2 separate regions of the Homo sapiens genome follow, and region 1 is reported to be linked to region 2. Evidence: microRNA targets listed by miRTarBase, many of them from high-throughput screens and not tested one by one. Region 2 holds a microRNA gene; the other region holds the end of a gene's coding sequence.
What was found. The annotated mature microRNA hsa-miR-3680-5p reads GACUCACUCACAGGAUUGUGCA and lies in region 2 at 4,541-4,562, shown strand. An mRNA with a match to its seed (bases 2 to 7 or 8) in the 3' UTR can be bound and repressed. Matches are read on the target gene's strand: a 7mer-m8 pairs with bases 2 to 8, a 7mer-A1 pairs with bases 2 to 7 and ends in A, and an 8mer does both.

Region 1 (7,118 bases), not on the chromosome of region 2:
CCTTAAAGGTCACCTTACCTCAAGCAGGTACCCTGGTTGCCTGTCATACTGAAACATGCTTCATGCAAATAGCATGAAGATGGTTTCAAAGTATGCCTTTACACTTCCTGAACAATTTGAAATTCACTCCATAAGTTCCCCAACTAATGGAAATATTTTATTGACAGAAGGTGGAAAAACCAAATAACCTAATCTTTGTTGCAAGCTCATCACTCTTTAGGTTACTCTTTTTGGGAATTTCAATGGTGTAAACAGTCACTATTCATTGAGTATGTGATGACATTAAGGTTCTGAACTTAAAAGGCTCTTAATTTTGCCAAAGGCTAACCTCTGTCACTTCTCTGGATCACATTTTTTTTTCTTTGAGACAGAGCCTTGTTCTGTCACCCAGTCTGTAGTGAAGTGGCATGATCTTGGCTCACTGCAACCTCCACCTCCTGAGTGAAAGTGACTCATGCCTCAGCCTTGGGAGTAGCTGGGACTACAGGCATGTGTCACCACACCCAGCTAGTTTTTTGTATTTTTAGTAGAGAAAGGGTTTCTCCATGTTGGCGAGGCTGGTTTTGAACTCCTGAGCTCCGGCAATCCGCCCACCTCAGCTTCCCAGAGTGCTAGAATTACAGGCGTGAGCTACCGCACCCGGCCGACACTTTTCTTAAGAGAGTAATTTGGGCAAAATATATTCCCAGAAAAAAAAAACAAACTGATCCTGTATCCACTTAGGGAAAACAAAATATGACATTTGGCTTTGAGACCAAAAAGAATAAAAATTAGATCAGCAATCTACTTCATACGTTAACAAACAAAACAAAACAAAACAAACAAAAAACCTGGCTATATTGGTAGGACCACGTAAGGCAAGGCAATAATCAAAATAGGAAGATCCTTATGTGAAGAGATCTTTGTGCATCAACAGAAAGTTCAACTTGCACTCTATGCAACTATTTTCCAAAACATAGTTAGTTTATAATTGTAGATGTAATATGTACTAATTATAAAAAAATTTAGATAACACCTAACATATTGTTAAAAATAAAAATCCCACCACCTATAGATTATAACGGCTTGGTGAATGCTTTTGCAAAAAGTTTTGCTCTAGATGTATGCTTTTTTTTTTTTTTTCCTCACTCTGTCACCCAGGCTGGAATGCAGTGGTGCGATCTCGGCTCACTGCAGCCTCCATCTCGTGGGTTCAAGTGATTCTCCTGCCTCACCTCAGCCTCCCAAGTAACTGGGATTATAGGCATGCGCCACCATGCCTGGCTAATTTTTGTATTTTTGGTAGAGATGGGGTTTCACCATGTTGGCCAGGCTGGTCTTGAACTTGTGACCTCAAATGACCTGCCCGCCTCGGCCTCCCAAAGTGCTGGGATTACAGGCGTGAGCCACTGCGTCTGGCCTGATGTATGCACTTTTAAAAACAAAAATGGCATATTACCTTTTACCATTTAATAATATTGTGGTAATATCTCAATATCAGTGACTGTGGATCTTCACAATTATTTTTAAAAGCCGCATAGTGTATCACTATATGGGAGTTATCAACTCAGCCAACCCTCTCAATTTTGCATACTATAAACAATGTTGCAATAAACATCTTTGCATACATAATTTTGCTTATGTCTCATTATTTTCTTAGGACAAATTCCCAAGTGAATGACTAGTTTACATGATACATAGATTAAAAAAAAATTTTAAAGCCTTTGGATTCAAATCGTCAGAAAGATTATACCAGTTTACTGTTCCTAAAAAGTTGAATACTTAATTAAGTTCATCCTGCTCATTGCTGAGTTCACACTATTTAAAAAATGGGTTAAAAAGTTGATTGGGATAGGTGCAGACTTGCTTGGCAATATGCTATATGGAAACATGCCTGTACCAGCAGAAATTCTGTGTCTGATTGCTGGCCAGCTTACTTCCAGCCATTCCTAGGCCCTTCTCCTTTACCCACCTTCATTATGAAGGCTACTTGTTTTCTCTGCCTGTCTTACATAATTCAGGCCAACAGAACGTAAACAGATACGAGCTGGGAGCTTCTGGAAAAACTTTTACTCTTCGTACAAAAAAAAGACAGACATACTGGAACTGTCCCTCCTAGCTGTGGATGTAAACACATACAGTCTGGAGCTATGGCTGCCATACTCCAACCGTAAAGAAAGGGCGAATGACTTGTTCTGACCAATGCCAACAAGAGGTAACTTGAGCTGTGATATGAAAAAAATGTTTAAACCAGGGGACCCCAACCCCAGACCACAGACTGGTAGTGATCTGTGGCCTGTTAGGAACCACGTTGCACAGCAGGAGGTGAGCAGCAGGTGAGCAAGCATTACTGCCTGAGCTCTGCCTCCTGTCAGATCGGCGGCAGCATTAGATTCTCACAGGAACGGAAGTCCTATGGTGAATTGCGCATGTGAGGGATCTAAGTTGTACGCTCCTTATGAGAATCTAACTAATGACTGATGATCTGAGTGGAACAGTTTCATCCTGAAACTATCTCCCCACACCGCTTCATCCATGGAAAAATTGTCTTCCACAAAACTGGTCCCTGGTGCCAAAAAGGTTGGTACTGCTGGTTTAAACCATTCTTAGTTCTGTTTCTGTTACTTGAGGCTAAAAACATTACTGACAGATAAAACACTCATGCTAAAAAGATAAGCAGTGGTTTCTGAGTTATCACAAATGTTCATTCAGAAACGATCATTAGGAGGCGTATGGAAATAATTATATATATTTAAAAATATGGATAAAATAGCTACATACAGTAAGAAATCATGGAAAAAACCTTTAATACTGAGAGCCACTGAAACCATTAAATGCACATTAGGAAAAAGGAACAAAGAAAATAACAAAATGGAGCAGGGGTGGGGTACATGGCAGAGGTTTACTCTGTGTTTATCAAAACCCCGTTTTCTTCCTGGGCACATAACCAAACTACATTTCCCATCTTTTTTTGCAGTTGGTTGGAGCCACAAGATCAAATCCTGGCTCATGGAATATGGTCAGAAGTGATGATGCCAATTCTTCTGGGCCTGGCCCATAAAAACTCCCATCTAATCTTTGCTTTTTCTTCATCTGCCGGCCAAATGAAGATTTTAAGCAGAATCACAGAATGGGAAGAGCCTGGGCCCCTGAATTACTATATGGAGCAGAACTCCTCCTCAAACCTACTTATGACTGTGATAAGAGCAATGTAGTAAGTATTGTGCTTAGCTATTGCAGCAGCTAGCATCATTTAGTCTAACAGAGGTGGGAATGGGATGAAGAGGAAAAAGGAAGAAAACGATGGGCATATGGTATGAATGGTGAGTGCTATCAGATCTTTCCACAGGTTCCTCTGCCCTGGCCTACCTAGATAAATTAAGCTGTTCCTTTTTTAACACAGATTGGCAACATTTTTTCTTTTTTTCAGACAGGGTCTCACTTGGTCACCCAGGCTGGAGTGCTCTGGCACAATCTTGGCTCACGGCAACCTCCACCTCCCGTGTTCAAGCACTTCTCCTACCTCAGCATCCCGAGTAGCTGGGACTACAGGCATACGTCACCATGCCCAGCTAATTTTTATATTTTTTGGTAGAGTTGGGGTTTCACCATGTTGGCCAGGCTGATCTCGAACTCCTGACCTCATGTGGTCTGCCCACCTCGACCTTCCAAAGTGCTGGGATTACAGTAATGCGCCACTGCACCCAGCCCAAAATTTTCAATAGTTAGGATAAATTCTTTCTTTTCTAATTTCCTTCTTTTGCTCCTTCCTAAATTTACCATTTTGGGAGGCTTGATTGTCTTAACTAATTCTTTGGAACATTATGATTTTTGAACTGTCTGAGACTGTGTTCCTGAGCAACTGGTTAGGAAGAAAGTCTGCAAAAATTTAACATCAATTTAAATATATCTTAAAATATATTAAAAATAATCCCTTGTTAAACAATTTTGACACTTTGGGATATACTCCAAATGAAGCTTTCTATATAACCAATAAATAACAGTTCGATCTGTACGCCTGTTCAAACAGTAGTACAAAGTTAAAAACCAATTACTTGGCCAGCTTGCCTTGTCCTAACATTATGATATAGCTATTACTATCAAGTACAAAGACACATAAACCAATTGATAAATTATATATTACATGTTTATTAAGAGCACAACTTTTATGTAAAATTTACATTTAATGAAAAAAATCAAAAATATTTACAAAATCTTGGAAGACAGATGTGCATTGTTCTAATTACAATCCAAAGTAGTAAATAACAATCCTTTAAAACTCACATTTATTAGAGTTGTGTTTACAAATTCTTGGTTAAAGAGGCAGCTACAAAGTTTATCACTATATATAAGCAAGAACCAGCTTGCTAGGTACATTTCCCATTGAAAATCTACTGGTCTCTTTTACACCATTAGTGGATTTTTAAATGGAAAAAAAAAATCAATATAAACTCATATGGCTTCAAAATTGTAACCTGTACCCAATACTTGGTATGAAGACTGTGGTAACTAAGAAAGTGCAGAAGTTTAACCATTTCACTAATTTGTACATTTTTAGGTAATATTTGATTAAAAACAAACACGGTAAGAACAGTGTCTGAATTCCAATAATAAAATATTGGCTGCCCTAAAAGCAGTTTGATTGCAAAGCAAATTACAGTTAGAATTCCAGTAAGGGACTGTAATTGGCATTTAAAAGAGCACAATATAAGAGTTAGAAATTCTAATTTAGCTCACTATTTAGTAAAGATTAGCATTTTAGCAAATTATCTTATGTGCTGCTTTAGTCAAATGTAAATTCAGACTTGGGCTAACATTGAATATATAAAAAAGCATATACTGTGTTATATATTGCTAAAGAGTAGATTTTCTGCTGTATTTAGTACAGCAAGATGTTACATAAATGTCTAGTAATAGAGGTTTTATTTTCTGTGAAGCTTAACGGAACAATTAGTGGTTTTATATAAATTATCATATATAACACAATTTATCACTTCTACTAGGCAAATAAAGGACACTCATATTTATTATTATAAATGAAATTCCCATTTGTAAATTATGAAACCTTATCCGAAATATTTTATTTCTTCAATTAATCAAGATTTGCTACTAAAGTTAGGTTTCTTACTATTTAGTATTGGTAGTTTATTTTTAGAAATGTTTAACCAAATATATCACTTCAAATAATTTCCCTATTTTTACAAAGTAGAAATTGAATAATTAAAATGTACAAATTGGTAATTTTTCCAATTGTTGAAATAAAAACAAATGGCAGTGCTTCTCCTTCTGTTTCCAAAATTAATCTTTTAAAAAATGCATCCCTCACAAAATACCATAAAACTCATGTTCACAACACAATCAGTAAATAAATGCATAAATTTTCAATGATAAAGTATCAAGGAAAATGCTAAATTGAGAGTTAAAATACCAGTTACCAATTTAGCACTATAGTTTTTTTAGAATTTGTTTTAAAATTCACACACTTTTGATGAGGTTAATGTCAAGTATCTGAAGGTAATCTTTCTTCCTGTAAACACATGCCATTGGGTTTATTTCTCTTTCTAGTGGCTACAGTGTATCACCAAAGAAGTGAGCCAGGATTCTTAAGTTAGGCTTTATGACTCTGAATCCCCTTCCCAGTTGCAGGCCAAAAATATTTACAAAAATTGCAAATATCTTATAAAAATGCTTGATCACTGTAAGATTCTGAACAGAAGATTCAGACTGAGAAAAAAAGTGAGGCACATTAATGAACACAAATTGTATAGGCACATCTCTGGTTTTTGTTATTGTTTTAAAAGGCACACATTATGCAATTCCATATAAAAATAAATTAAATCTACAGCATTAATTCATCAAAAAAATCACAACTCCTATAAAGTTAACTAACTGCAGAAGTAAATGTCTCTGCTGTCATTTGCAAGCTTATTTTAAAACACATTGCACTTGAGAATTTTTTTTAAAAATCATATAAAACATCACTTATACTTTATTAATATGTTTATGAGAATCAAATTATAGATTTTTTGCATACAACTTGGACTCTGGTCTGATTACCTTATGGCACATAGCTCAATTTGATTAAGTGTTCTGAGTTAACATTACCCAAAACTTAGAATTCATGTTCTATTTGTATCCACTGAATATCAAACTTATGAAATTTCAAAGTTATCTCTGACTCTAAAAATGTATGGAAAGCTAAATTACTTTGTGCTTGCTCTTCTGAAACTTTAGGCCTGATATTACACTATAACCCTTTTTTTCAACATAGACACTGGAAATAATTTAAAAATTAATCCTACAAAAACTTCATTTTTACTGAGAATCTGAATAAATGTGCTTCCTGAATATTGTAGTTGATCATTTACAACATAGAGAATCATTTCAGTACTATTTATTTCAATGACTCACTTTAAAAGTGCGATTTAATGTTTGTAGTCAGCTCTCAAATATGTCTAAGTTTGAAAGACATCATACAAGTTAAAATAGTGTTTGGAAAGAACAGATAATGCAGAATGGCAGGTTTGTAATCCCTGAAGCCACATCACTTTCCCAGGTCCATCAACAATCCGCCAGGTATCGTCCTGAAAAACGCCAAGCAGACCTTTGCAATTACAATTTCAAATGCACTCTAAGGACATTTTCCACTGTGGTTACCAATACAAAACTCTAGTTCCCATCTGCTATTTACAGTACATTAGAATCAGATAACAGGTGTTCAGCTATACTGACCGTAAGAACTCTCTCCCAGGTGTGTCTCTACCTGGCACCTTGTACCAAGGGTTAAAGAAAAAATTTCCATGTCTTTAGATTATAAATTGCTTGACAGTTTTTTAATAACTGTTAGAATACAAATGTTTCCCATGTACATTAAAAAGTTTGAAATCTCCTAACTTACCAGTAGCAAACCGCTTCTTTATTAAGGAAAGCCTATAGCCAGTGCCCACAAGTTCGAAATCTACTCCTGAAAGGGTACTTCCCTCGCTGAGGAATTGTACTGCAAGTGTCGTGGGTTTACTAGGTCCTTCTGAAAGATCAAATTTTGCTCGGAGGGACCCAGAACCTACAAAGAAAAGAATAAAGCACTTACACAGGGTAAAATACATTTCAAACAAAATAGAATCAAATGAGCAAGTAAG
Region 2 (7,118 bases):
AGCTGTACCTGAATTCCAGAGGGAGGGGGTATAACAAGGCCTGTGTGACCCCTCTTCCCATCATGACCTGAGCTCGTTTTTCAGGTTAACTTTGGAATATCCCTTTGGCCAATAGGAGTGGTCCCTTCAGTCAGTTACGGGGCTTAGAATTTTATTTTTGGTGTACGTGCTCAAACTGCAGCTGCTACAAAACCAAGGCCACGGTGACCCCGGGGCCAGTCCAGCTTTGTCCCTGTGCTCTCGAGCTGCTGGAGGCCAATGCAGGATTCTGCCCACGGCTCACATGTGTGGCTTCAGACCCTGAGGGTTCTTGGGGCTGTGTCTTCACCTGGTACTGTGTAGGGGCCCTGTGAGCTGAGTCAACTGGAAGAGCCCAGAGCCTCTGCAGAAGGCCTGAGCAGGGCCCGGGCACTGTCCCTGGAGCTCTGAGTCCCTCAAGCTGTGTGGCCCGGAGCCAGGCGCTTGACTTCTCTGGTTGTTTGCTTCAGAGCTGGGAGCCTGGGGTGGCGTAGGTCTTTGGCAGGGGTCAGGTAGGGGAGGGGCCAGCCAGGAATCAAACATCCCTGACAGGTGAGGGGGCAAGTGAGGAGGGCAGGGCAGGAGCCCCTGGAGCACTTGTGCAGCAGCATCTGGACCGGTGCAAGCCCTGAGATGGCTTCAGGTCCTGCTCAGAGCTAAGGGCTCCCCGTCACCAGGGATTCTTCCATCACTGCACCTGCAGAGCCCATCGGGATTGGGGAGAGGCCCTGGCCTTAGTTTGGAACAGCTGCATCCGCCTGTCGGGTGTACAGGCTGTGCACTGGTTAAGCCTGAGCACAGAGTCTGTTCAACAAGTTCATTGTGTGGTATTTGCTTCCGCTTGCTGTTGAGTTGGACTGGCCTGGATGCTGGCCAGGAGCCCAAGTGGACTTGGTGCTTCTCTTTGACAGCCAGGATTGAAAAGCCTAGTTAAGTGGGCAGAGCACGAGGGTGAGATTTAGGAGACCTGGATGTCCTCACTTTGCCGCCCAGGAACTGCTGTGTGACTTTCAGCAAGTGGGACAACCTCTCTGAACTATGTTTACCCCAGCTATAAAATGGAGGTGTTGGATTGGCTGCCACAAGTGTCCTTCCACCTCCACAATACCGTGACTGGAGCGGGTTTTCACTCCTTTTTCTTGTTAGCATAACTGTTGGAGCTATAGAGGGTTTGGAGTGGGGTATGGGTTTCTGGGCCACAGATGTGTGAGGCTCCGCACTTAGCCAGCAGTGGCAACTCCTTATCACTGGTGCCCATGGCTTCATCTGTGCCCTGAAGATACTCATGCTGCAGTGACTGGTCAGATTAATGGTGATGCTTTCATGGGGCGCCGTAAGACATGTCCGCGAGGTATTTCGCCCATGCAACGGGAGGCAGTGTTCCAGTCTGTTGGAGACATGAAAGGGAGGCTCAGTCCCTGCAAAGGAACTTGCCCGAGTTCACACAGCATTTCAGCACTGGGTGGCCTGGCTTCAGAGTTTCAGAGGGAGGGGTGGCCCTTCCTGTCGGTCCTGGGGGTCTCCTGGAGTCAGGACCCTTGGGAAACCCAAATCCACCAGGACGCTTGCATCAGGAGAACCTGACTACATGAGAAGCTGCCCTTTTCCGGTTCTCCTGCTTACCCTTGACTTGGGGTGTCGGCAAATTTCAGAGCTTGCCAAATCTGCATCTTCCTGGCCTGTTTAAAATGAATGTGTCAGCCCCATTCTGGACAGCAGCTGACACCTCCTCCCCCGTGCCAGCCAGGACAGTGTGGTTGGGCGTAACTCAGCCCCGGTTAAAAATGGAAAAAAGTACAAAGACATGTGTTCAACGGCTGGTGACAGAATTTGAAAATGTGACACCAGCCTGTTAGTAATTTGTTTTCACAGAAACCTGATTCAACACTGAGCAGACAGGTGGGGCCAGGGCCTTGGGATCATCTCTGTTCTTGCCCAGGGACATCTGTATGTCTGGCCCAAAGCGGGGGCCTTGTGCTCTGCAGAGACTGGACATCAAAATTGAGCCATTATAAGCAGACCATCCTGGCCAGGCACGGTGGCTCACGCCTGTAATCCCAACACTTCGGGAGGCCAAGGTTGGCGGATCGCCTGAGGTCAGGAGTTCGAGACCAGCCCGGCCAACATGGTGAACCCTTGTCTCTACTAAAAATACAAAAATTAGGCGGGCGTGGTGGCAGGTGTCGGTAATCCCAGCTACTGAGGCAGGAGGCTGAGGCAGGGGGCAGGAGAATCACTTGATCCCCGGAGGCAGAGGCTGCAGCTACTCGGGAGGTAGAGGTGAGAGAATGGCTTGAACTCAGGAGGTGGAGGTTGCAGTGAGCCAAGATCGCACCATTGCACTCCAGCCTGGGCGACAAGAGCGAGACTTTGTCTCAAAAAAAAAAAAAAAAAAAAAAAAAAAAAATGGAAACACTGCCTTTGCTTCCCTGCCCCGGAACTGCTTCATTTTCCTTGGGGTTTCTGGACCACTTTGACCTCTCTCTGTGGCCAGCAATGGTGGGGAGGTGGGTGGATCTGGAGCTGGCATGGGCAGGCTCAGCATTCCAGCCCATTCTGGGGTGAGGTTGGCCTTGGGTGAGGACAGGGGTCACTGGGTCAGACATTCATTTTCTGGAGCCCAGGGGTGGTGACGTGTCCATCAGGGAAGCACGCGCCTGTGCTGGGGGGTGCTCCCTGGACCAGCAGCGCCGGCCTCCCTGGGACCTTGTTCTGTGCAGATGTGTTGTCTCCCTCTCCCCCGACCTGCCTGATCAGAAGCTCTGGGTTTCCATCCCGCTCCCCGACCACTGCTTTTACAAGTCCCCCCAGGGGATGACACGGGAGATGGTGGGGGCTGTCTATCAGTGGAGAAGGTGGGCGCTGTCTATTGGTGGAGATGGTGGGGGCTGTCTGTCGGTGAAGATGGTGGGGGCTGTCTGTCGGTGGAGAAGGTGGGGGCTGTCTGTCAGTGGAGATGGTGGGGGCTGTCTGCCGGTGGAGATGGTGGGGGCTGTCTGTCGGTGAAGATGGCGGGGGCTGTCTGTCGGTGGAGAAGGTGGGGGCTGTCTGTCGGTGGAGATGGTGGGGGCTGTCTATCAGTGGAGAAGGTGGAGGCTTGTACTCAGAGCAGGGGATATTTAGACTTGAAGGGGCCAGGGAGGAAGGTACTGGTTCTACTAAGCCCCATGTTCACTGGGCAGCCACTAAGTTTGGGACCGTGTGTGTACTGAGTGGATTCCGACAAAGAAGCTGTCTCAGGAGCCCCAGCCAGCTGCAGAGGGGGGCCCAAGCTCCAAGGCTGGGTGTCAGGTTTGCCAGGTGCTGGTTCGGCTAGGGGCCGCAGGCTGCGCTGGGCGGGACTGGGCTGGGCTGGTACCTGTGCCCGGTGTCAGGCCAGCTGTAGTTGCAGCGGTCAGCTGCCGCTCTCTGGCCCCATGCGAACTGCTGTGCCAGGTGCACCCTGGGGGACCAGGCTGCCTGGGCTTCCTGGAACTGGTGAAGTTGCCGCCACTTCCTCTATGCTGTCTCCAGCAGGCAATTCTGGGTAAACGATCTTCATTTGCCTATAAAGCTGCACAGCTCACAGGCCTTGGATCGTTTCTGCCCAGCCCCAGCATTGGCCCTTTGGACAGACTCTGAAACTGTGCGCAGAACGCACCCTGTCATTACAAATGACTCCTGGAGGCAGTCCCCGGGGGCCTGGCAGGAGCACCTCTGTTTCTGTTGGGTCTGAAAATGACAGACCAATTGCTTGAACCCAGGAGGCGGAGGGTGCAGTGAGCCGAGATCGAGACATTGCCCTCCAGCCTGGGCAACAAGAGCAGAACTCCGTCTCAAAAAAAAAAAAAAAAAAAAAAAAAAAAATCTTCACAAATGTAATTTGTAATGGCTGCAGAAAATTTCAGCTCTGAATGTACTGCATCCTAATCAGTTTCCTATTGTTGAGAATTAGTATAATATCCAGGTGTTTTGTTTTTGTTTTGCTATTAATAAGTAAAGCTGAGATGAATACTTCTGTATCAATCTTGATCCTTATTTTAGATAATTTCCATTTCATTCCTCCCATTTCTTGCGTGCTTCCTATGGTCAGGTGCTGTGCTGTGTGCTGAGTATGGAGGAGGTAGGCTGAGATAGACGTGACCTTTGCTCTTGCAAAGCTGATATCCTAAGGGTTGGACAGATGCTAAATGTGCAAAGAAACCCAATACTTGCAGATGGTGCTGGGTACTACCAAGGAAAGAAATAGGGTATATGACAGAGTACCTGGAAAGGGCACTGGCCAACTTTTATGGGCAGGGAGGTCAAAGCAAACCTGTCTGGAGATGAGACAGGCCAGGAAAATCAGGGCAGGGGCCAGAGTAGGGCAAATGTGGTGTCTAGAGCCTCATTTTTTTAGACGGATTCTCGCCCTGTTGCCCAGGCTGGAGTGCAAAGGCAGGATCTCGGCCCACTGCAACCTCTGCCTCCCAGGTTCAAGCAATTCTCCTGCCCCAGCTTCCTGAGTAGCTGGGATTACAGTACAGCCTCAAATTTAAGGAGGGACTCACTCACAGGATTGTGCAAATGCAAAGTTGGCTTTTGCATGACCCTGGGAGTAGGTGCCTCCTTAAATTTTGCACCCTCAGCAACTCCATCCCCTGTCACTTTGCTAGTCCCAACCCTGATGGGAACAAATGCAGGGAAGGCATTCCAGATGGCGGGAACAGCAAGTACAAAAATCCAGAGGCCAGAAAGGCTTGGTGTGTTTCAGGAACAGAAACTCGGTTCCCATGACTGAAATGGAGTAGGGAAATCCTAATGGAGCCAGAGAGGCAGAACCACCAACAGGAAGAAGAAAAAAATGTTGGAAGTTATGAGAGTTGCTCACGTTTGATTCATTTGATTAATTTTATTGAAATGGAGTCTCACTCTGTTGCCCAGGCTGGAGTGTAGTGGCACGATCTAGGCTCACTGCAACCTCCACCTCCTAGGCTTAAGTGATTCTCTCATCTCAGCCTCCCAAAGTGCTGGGATTACAGGCGTGAGCCAGCATGCCCCACCTGAAGCAATTTCTTTGTTGTCTTTTTTTTTTTTTTAACTTCTCCCATAGAAATAATTAACCCTCAAAAAACACTCAGTGTTGACAAAGGGTGGTGTGAGGACACAGAAAGTATCAGACTATCATTGGCAGAAACTTCCTGGAAAGCAACTTAACAGTCTGTATCCAAAGACTTAAAATCATTAACAGCCTTTTCCCCAATAACTCCACTTCTCGGAATCTATCCTAAGGAAATCTGCCACAGCCAGAGTGATTTTTTCCGTCCCCTTAAGAAATGGTCTCATCCTGTTGCCCAGGCTGGAGTGCAGCGGCACCATTATGGCTCACCACAGCCTGAAACTCGTGGGCTCAAGCGATTCTCCCACCTCAGCCTCCCAAGTAATTGGGATCACAGGCATGCCTCCACATCCATATGCCTAGTTGGATAATATTTTGACCAATAAAGAAAAAGAGGGCCAGGCGCGGTGGCTCACGCCTGTAATCCCATCACTTTGGGAGGCCGAGGCGGGTGGATCACGAGGTCAGGAGATTGAGACCATCCTGGCTAACACGGTGAAACCCTGTCTCCACTAAAAATACAAAAAACAAAATTAGCCGGGCTTGGTGGCGGGCGCCTGTAATCCCAGCTACTCGGGAGGCTGAGGCGGGAGAATGGCTTGAACCCGGGAGGCAGAGCTTGCAGTGAGCCAAGATTGCGCCACTGCACTCTAGCCTGGGCGACAGAGCGAGACTCCTTCTCAAGAAATAATAATAATAAAATAAAAAAATAAAAAAGAAAAAGAAAGGTAGTACCAGAGATTGTGTCCAGTTGCTCAAGCAATTTCTAACTTGTCTAATTTTAAAATTTTTTAAATTTTTATACAAAATTAGCCAGGCATGGTGGCATGTGCCTGTAATCTCAGCTACTTGGGAGGCTGAGGCAGGAGACTCACTTGAACCTGGAAGGCAGAGGTTGCAGTGAGCTGAGATCACACCATTGCACTCCAGCCTGGGCCACAAGAGTGAAACTCCGTCTGAAAAAAAAAAATTTAATTTTTTTTTGTAGAGATGGGGGTCTCACTATGTTGCTCAGGCTGGCCTATAACTCCCAGGCTCAAGGATCTTCCAGTCTCAGCCTCCCATCACTGTAATTACAGGCATGAATCACTTCACCTAAATGATTTTTTTTTTTTTGAGACAGTCTTGCTCTGTCACCCAGGCTGGAGTTCAGTGGCACGATCTCGGCTCACTGCAACCTCTGGCTCCCGGGTTCAAGCAATCCTCATGCCTCAGCTTCCCCAAATAGCTGGGACTACAGGTGTGCGCCACCATGCCTGGCTAATTTTTGTATTTTTTTGTAGAAACGGGGTTTCACCATGTTTGTCAGGCTGGTCTCTTGACCTCAAGTGATCCACCCACCTCGGCCTCCCAAAGTGCTGGGATTACAGGAGTCAGCCATCCATGGTGCCCTGCCTTTTCTCTTTCTTCTCCTCCCTCCCTCCCTACCCTCCGCAGCCCAGGCTGGAGTGCAGTGGTGGGATCATAGGTCACTGCAGCCTCCACCTGCTGGACTCAAGTCATCCTCCTGCCTCACCCTCCTGAGTTCCTGGGACCACAGGCACGCGCTACCACGCCGGGTAATTTTTGTAGTCCCCATCATTTAGAACTGGCAGGATCCTCCCTTAGTGAGGGATTGGTGGCCATAAGCAAGGAGCCCAAGGTGGAGGGGATATGCATGTGTGTGGAGGTGTCAACTCCTCATAATCTTCAAGTACTTTTGGTTACAATTTTTAATTGCACAAGCGATATATAAAGACGTTTTCTTTGCAACATAAAATGATAGGTTAAGACTCCTTATGCAGATAAGGTTTAGACACTTGTTTAAGGAGCATCCTGGCCCACCTTTTAAAAAATGTGTATGCATTCACTTTATGCATCAGATGGTTTAGGGAATTTTTTTCCCTGGGGCATGGGACATGTCATGGGGTAGATGGTCAGGTACGTCTCCTCTACCCAGCTGATTCTCTTTTTTTTTTTTTTTTTTTTTTTGGAGACGGAGTCTTGCTCTGTCGCCCAGGCTGGAGTGCAGTGGAGCGATCTC

Region 1: miRTarBase lists FCHO2 as a target of hsa-miR-3680-5p. Seed matches in the 3' UTR shown: 7mer-m8 at 6,385-6,391.

The regions. Positions count from the first base shown.
Region 1 is chr5:73,087,513-73,094,630 of GRCh38, reverse strand. FCHO2 (FCH and mu domain containing endocytic adaptor 2) reads right to left here. Exons shown (of 26, transcript NM_138782.3): 25 at 6,878-7,042; 26 at 4,109-6,563. The coding sequence ends at 6,541. Among named protein-coding and RNA genes, the nearest start is that of TMEM171, 30 kb to the left of the region's middle.
Region 2 is chr16:29,596,675-29,603,792 of GRCh38, reverse strand. It overlaps MIR3680-2 (microRNA 3680-2), which reads left to right and starts at 4,528; the gene lies at 4,528-4,614. LOC105371168 (a long non-coding RNA gene) reads right to left here and starts at 6,002. Exons shown (of 2, transcript XR_950984.3): 1 at 5,971-6,002; 2 at 138-1,405. It also overlaps the pseudogene SMG1P2.